2 linked regions of the Homo sapiens genome follow. The protein of the gene in region 1 purifies or fractionates together with the protein of each later gene. This does not show direct contact. Each region holds a gene or a part of one and is shown in the gene's direction. Other genes may lie near its edges.

Region 1 (3,655 bases):
TAGTCTTATTAAGGGTCTGGACCAAGACTGTGTTTGTTGGAATAAAAGCAGGGCATGGAGTCTAGACATATTTAGAAAATGGAACTCAGTGGCCAATTTGATGTGGAACAGGAAAACGGAATGGAGAGTCCAGAATGTGGCAGATTTCTGGCAAGAATGGCTGGGTGGGTGAGATGCATCTGACAGATCAGGAGGCAAGAGAGGAGCAGACTCACTGACAGTGGGTAGAGGCTGAGTTCAGTTATAGATGTGCTGGTTTTGAAGTAGTTATGAGACATTCAGCTGGACCCAGCCAGTTGTCTGTTGAATACTTTGGTCTGATGCTTAAGGGAGATACTAGAATTAGAAATATTGTTTCAAAAATCAGCAAGATACAAGGGGCAATTAAGCAAACAACAGTGAATGATACGACAAAGGAGACTGTACTGACAGTAAAGAACTATTGACAAAGTAGAACCTTTGGGAGCTTCGGTATTTGGGGCAGGAAAGGACAGAGGACAAGAAACCTGCAAATACAATTAAGAAATAAAGGAAAATTTAAAAAGAGAACATCTGGTAGATGCCAAGGAAGTAGAGACTCTTGGAGGAAAGAAATCATGAGGTGTATTAACACAATACGTTGACCATTATTAGCATTTTTGAGTATAATTTTGGCAGAATTTTCTGAGCTCATAATGATAGGATGATGGGCAGATTATATTGGGTTGAAAAGTCAAAGGGAAGTGAATGCACTTTTTTCCCCAAGAAATCTTATCTGAGACAAGAAGAAGAGAAGCAAGACAATGGTTTAACAGAGACTCATGGTCAGGAGAAATGTGTGTGTATGTGTGTATGTGTGTGTGTGTGTTTCTCAACAAACGAGAGAGCCTTGATTGCCTTTGTAGGTCTAAGAGAAAGAGCTACAAAAGGAAAAAATACATAAAATATGAGAGGAATCAGGTCCAGTGCAGTGGCCTGTAATCCCAGCACTTTGGGAGGTCAAGGCGGGCAGATCATCTGAGATCAGGAGTTTGTGACCCCTGTCCAACATGGTGAAACCTGTCTCTACTAAAAATACAAAAATTAGCCAGGCATGGTGGCAGGCGCCTGCAATCCCAGCTACTTGGAAGGCTGAGACAGGAGAATTGCTTGATCCTGGGAGATAGAGGTTGCAGTGAGCTGAAATTGTGCCACTGCACTCCAGCCTAGGCAACAGAGTGAGACTCTGTCTCAAAATAAAATAAAATATACAAGGAATCATTACTCCTACTCAGTGTTCCAAGGTGCTGGAGGAAAGAGGGAAAAATAGTATCATGAACACAGGTACAAAATGTCCAACAACTGGAAATTAAATGAATCATATTGTAGAAGAACATTTATTGCCATAAAATTATTACCATATACCATATGTTATATTAACATATATAGCCTTATATATGTGACATTCATATGGTATTATATTGCTATATAAATTTTTAAAATTAAAATATAAATTGTGATGTATTATTTTTAAGTTAAAAAAAGTTGGTCACAAAACAAGAGAGTAATCTCTTAGCTCTTCTTCCCTCCTTTTCCTTCCTGCCTCCTCAATCTTTTCCTACCTTTTTACCTCCTCCAGAGTCTTGGCTCTACCTAAAGAGAGTTGTGGGAAGTTCTTTCTTAGTGTTGTGAGGTAGGTTAGCTTTGTCAAGTAAAACCAAGCTTTCTGTTTATCTTGCTAGACGGTGATATTTCATCTAAACGATTGGTACCAGATATGTTTTGGAATCTTCCTATTTAAAGATAATAATACATATTACTTGATATTACCAGCAGAGTCTGGGAAAATACCCAGAATCAAACATATTAATATATCTATTGGAAAACATGGGATTATTCACCTTAAATAGCTTGAATAAAAATGTTATAGCCTTATGTTAATTCAAGTTAGGTCTTAATGCCAATGTGCCAGTGGGTTACAAAAATCCTTTATTTTCAGAAGATTTTGGATTTTTGTATTGAAGATAAGGAATTTTGGTATAATATTATATTTATAATTTTTCATAGTCTAACTGTGATGATATATTATGCTTGAAAAATCTCGATTATCACCAAAAGCTACCTCCAAACCAAGGGAAGAGACACAAAGAGAGGTAAAAGTGAAATAAACCCCTATCTTGCCACACAGATTTTCCAAGCATTTTATAGCAAATATGCATAATTTTGTTTATATCAGTATGTCATTGCAAACATCACTCAGAGTTTTGCTTTTATAGTTTTTCTTTGTTTTTCCTAAAGTTATTAATTGCCTTATTTTTTTAAATTTCGTTAATTTTCTTTGACTTTTTGTTAAAACCCCATATCTTCCAACAGCATCTCAGAATAATTTTTCCACAATATCATTTTCATAAGTTTATCTTGAGCTAAAAATAATAACCTTTCTCTGCACTGGTTTCCCTCTAGTCATTCTGCACAGTTGTCATATTGAGATTTCCTTTACTGTCATCCTAGGAATGCTCTCTTAGCTATTTCCTTGTTTTAGGTTCTCTGTTTTTCTCCTTCTACCTTTATTTGCTCCTTTGTTCTGTTGTAGTCAACGCTGTCTAGTCACATTGCTCTAATCTGAACTGGCTGCTCTCCATGCCTTGTATACGATAGGAGTCATCCTGGAATCTCCCTTTATCCTCATGGTGAAGATTTTTCTTTACCACTTCCCTGTGTGGATTTCCTGTTTTCTGTTCCCCGTCTTCCTTGTTTTGGGCTTGTGCCCTCTTTCTTGTTGTTAACAGTTTCCGGAAAGAGAGTGATCGGGATGCAAGATTTTTGAGACTCACTGGTCTGAAACTGCCTTTCCTCTTAAATTTAGTTAAGTATTTCCCTGGGCATGGAATTCAAAGGTGGTTATGACTTTTCTTCAGGATTGTGAATGTATTTATATCCTCCCATCTTACGTTGCTATTGAGAATTCTGAAGTTCTTCTGATTCCTGATTCTTTGTATGTGTATTCCTCATTCCACACCTTCCCCAGAATGCATGCAGAATTTCTTCCTTTCTATTTTCTTTTCTCTTTTTCTGAAACTCTTATTATTGGGATCTTCTGCCTCTTGGATTAGGGCTCTAATTTTCCGACATTTTCTCTGCTATTTTTTACTACTTTATTTTTCTCCTCTACTTTCTGAGAGATTTCCTCCTCTTGATCTTCCAAATCTTGTACTGAATCTTTTATTTTTGTTAACATGTTCTTAATTTCCAAGAACTCTTTTTTCTTGTCTTCGGAGTTTCAACACTTATTGTTGTTTTGTGCATGTATTATTTTTTCTTCTCTCTCTGAGGCTATTTAGGAAATTTTTTATTGAAGCTCCTCCCCCCTGCTTCCTTCAAGTTGCTTTTATCTGCTTTTTTATTTGCTTTTTCATGCAATAAGTTTTTCTCACATGTCTGGTAACTCTTGGGGATTACCAAAAACTCATAGAAAATTCTGACCATGTGAGTAACACTTGCCAATTTTGAGCTTCATGATAGAATGATCTAGCTGGACCTTTTGCTGCGGGGAAATCGGAGGTAAGTGTCTTTGGAGACTTCCTCTTGGGATGGTCAGGTCTCCCAGGTTTCAAGATTCTTCTAATTTCCTTCTTGAATCAGTTGCCTAATTTAGGAAATAAAAATACAGGATCTCCAGGTAAATTTGAAGTTCAGA
Region 2 (3,655 bases), on another chromosome or scaffold:
GTGGTAAGAAGTCACTGGACCCAAAGAGGAAATATTTTAATACAATTTAAAGCCATCTTAAGTATGAATAAGCATTATTCACCTATCACTGGCACTGACTTTTTAAAAGGTAGTTCAGTCCAAAGATGTGTGGAAATTATGGTCAAAGCCAAAATTACCTTTGTGTCCATCTGTGATGCTGTTGCTATTATCATCTTCACCTGGATTACTGTGTTTGAGTCTTCTCTAGCTAATAGGAATTAATGTCCTTTATCTTCCCTGAAGTAGCAAGGAGGGTTCTTGCCCACTTGCTGCTCGGCAAGATTGGGTACCAGCTGTCATAGGTAATAATAAATCCAGTGAGGTTTCCTTTGATTCACATGTTGGAAATGTTCTTTTAAACATTTGCTTGTATGGGGAATGATTGATTGCCTATTTAATCAAAATTTTCTATTCACGTGAATAATTTAGGACACTATTATTGGTACTAGTGCAAAAAATTGAGAAATACTAAAAACCTAACACTGACTTTGTAGATCAGTGCTTCTGTGCAACCTCTTCAAAAATAACCACACCCTGATTAGGCCGTGCACGGTATCACACATTTCAAACATACTTCAAGAAGACACTGCCATCAATTCCACTTCCCTGAATAACTGGTCCTGAAAATTTGACTTCTTTACATCTGATAGAAATGTCAGTCTCCTTCCCTCAAAAGGGGAACAACTCTATCCACTCAGCTCACCCTCCTACACATATATTCACACACACTACTACTCCCTGACATACAGTAGTATAAGGAGCATCTTAGATAATACTTTTTATTTCTATTAGCTTCTATTAAGGTATGTAGCCCCTTTTCCCACTATAACACACATCCAGTTATCCAATTACAATCTTGTTTTTCTCTTTCTTTTTCTTTTTCTCTGCAGCTTTATTGAGGTATAGTTGACAAGTGAAAATTATATTTATATGTGCAACATATATATTTATCATGTGCAACATTATATTTTGATATATGTATACATTGTGAAATGATTACCACAATCAAAGTAATTAACATATCCACCTCACATAGTTATTATTTTGTTTGTGTGTGGAATGTGGTGTTAACATTTAGGATTTACTCTCGGCTGGGCATGGTGGCTCATGCCTGTAATCCCAGCACTTTGGGAGGCCAAGGCAGGTGGATTACTTGAGGTCAGGAGTTTGAGAGCAGACTGGCCAACATGGTGAAATCCCGTCTGTACTAAAAATACAAAAATTAGCTGAGTGTGGTGGCGGGCACCTGAAACTCCAGCTACTCAGGAGGCTGAGGCAGGATAATTGCTTGAACCCGGGAGGCAGAGGTTGCAGTGAGCTGACATTGCACCACTGCACTCCAGCCTGGGCAACAAGAGTGAAACTCTGTCTCAAAAAAAAAAAAAATTTACTCTCAGCAATTTTGAAGTTTATTATATGTTATTATTAACTATAGTTACCATGCTGTACAATAGATCTCCAAAACCAATTATAGTCTTAAAGTAGGTTGCTAGTGTTACATAATGTTCCCATACTTTTGTAGCTGTAAGTGAACAGAGTTCTTAAGTTGAATATCCTAACTAGAGTTGATCTGAGTTTGAGATGATCTTTTGGAAAGATTACAATTAAAAGCAAAAGAATACCACAGTTTTTTTTTTAACTAAATAAGAAATATGCAACAAAAAGCACTTAATGCATACTTTTTTTACAAAGGAAAATCGTAGTATCCTCCAAATCTGGGGAGAGGAAGAATTCCATTTGAGGTTATTCAACAATGCTATTAATATTTGACACTTCTATTGTGCTTTCTCTAAAGCTTATAGAATTAAAGTTTGAGAAGTTTGATGTGGAGCGAGATAACTACTGCCGATATGATTATGTGGCTGTGTTTAATGGCGGGGAAGTCAACGATGCTAGAAGAATTGGAAAGTATTGTGGTGATAGTCCACCTGCGTAAGTAGCACCTATTTATGTCTTTAATAGTTTTATGGCTCTAAACTTGTTTCTTGTTCAGTTTCCCAATCACATTTGTTTTCTGGAAGATTTTATGTTGTTGTTGTTTTGTTAAATTATTGGGTCCTCTATTAGTTCTCGCACTGCTGTAAAGAAATACCTGAGACTGGGTAATTTATTTAAAAAAAGAGGTTTAATTGGCTCAGGGTTCTGCATGTTGTACAGGAAGCATGAGGCTTCTGCTTCTGGGGAGGACTCAGGAAATGTACAATCATGGTGGAAAGGAAAGAGGGAGCACACACATCACATGGCCAGAGTAGAAGCAAGGTCGAGGGGAGGTGCCACATGCTTTTAAATGACCAGAGAGCAGAGAGCTCACTGTCGCCAAGGTGGATGGTGTTTAAACCATGAGAAACCGCCCTGATGATCCAGTCATCTCCCACCACGCTTCTCCTCAACATTGGGGATTATATTACATTTGGGCAGGGACACAGATCCAAACCACTACAAGTCCCATAACCATGGAGTCAGCACCACCAAAAAAGAATAGCCAACCCAGGCCCTGAGGCAACATTAACAGGAGTGTCAATAGCCAAACAGAAACAAGTAGAGCTGGTGATACCCCAGGGTCAGATGCAGAGCCGGGTACCTGGATACATCACTGCCCTGTAAGAATGAGATCAAGCATCAGAGTGGAATGGGAAAATTCTGAAAACAAAACAAAACAAAAACAACCAGGGGGCTTAATACTGGGGATCCAGACAAGGAGACCCAGAAGTTTACGACAAACCCAAATGATTTTACCTTATCAGAGATCTGTCCTGGACTGTTTGAGGCCTTATGCCTCCCCCTCACATTGCTATCCAAATTTTTGCTAAGTGGACCTTGAAGGCACCATGTATTTATTCAACAAACATTTATGGAGCCAAGAGTTCTGCCACTTAATAACTGTGTGACATTGAGCAAGTTACTTAACTCTGCTGCAATATATAACTGTATTTCTGGTGTAATTATGTAACTGCATTTATATAACTGCAATATATAACTATTTCTGGTGTAATTCTGGTGCAATATATAACTGTATTTTGGTGCAAGATATTTCATAACTTCACTTACAATATTAGTAAAAGCAACAGCTGAAATTACTGCAGCTTGCCTTCAAGTCACCATTATGCCAATTTAAATACCCTTTTCTACTCTGTTGCTTAAACGTAATTAGATTATATGCATCACTTGATTTTATATGCATTATTATGGTTTTTCATTGACATATTTGAGTTAAAGGAGGGTATTTTCTATTACATTTACATTGATAAGAATGTTTTAATACATACAAGATAGTAGTTATAATTTAAGCATAACCATACCCAAATTTGGTTTACAGATGAATATATTGGAGAAGGGCCTATTTCTAAGTTCCTAGATAATTCTTTTCCCATTGCTGCTGTAACAAATTGCCACACGTGCAGCGACTTAAAACAGCACAAATGTATTCTCTTACAGTTCTGGAAGCCAGACACTGGACTAAAGTCAAGGTGTCGGCAGGGCTGTTTCCTTCTGAAAGCTCTGAAAGGGAATCTGTTTCCTTGGCTTTTCCTGCTTCTAGAGTCTGCCTGCATGCCTTGGCTTGTAGCCCTCTTCCTTCATCGGCAAAGTGTGTCACTTCAGTCGCTGCTTCTGTCTCCTCTTCTTAGTCAAATCT

Evidence for each region.
Region 2: the proteins of VNN1 (region 1) and PCOLCE2 purify together in Homo sapiens (affinity purification with mass spectrometry; one large-scale study listed by BioGRID and IntAct). This does not show direct contact.

What each region holds. Positions count from the first base shown.
Region 1 is NC_000006.12:132,686,463-132,690,117, reverse strand, and holds part of VNN1 (pantetheinase precursor), read left to right. Parts: intron 1-3,655. UniProt on the Homo sapiens protein: Amidohydrolase that hydrolyzes specifically one of the carboamide linkages in D-pantetheine thus recycling pantothenic acid (vitamin B5) and releasing cysteamine.
Region 2 is NC_000003.12:142,837,068-142,840,722, reverse strand, and holds part of PCOLCE2 (procollagen C-endopeptidase enhancer 2 precursor), read left to right. Parts: intron 1-1,816; coding exon 1,817-1,953; intron 1,954-3,655. UniProt on the Homo sapiens protein: Binds to the C-terminal propeptide of types I and II procollagens and may enhance the cleavage of that propeptide by BMP1.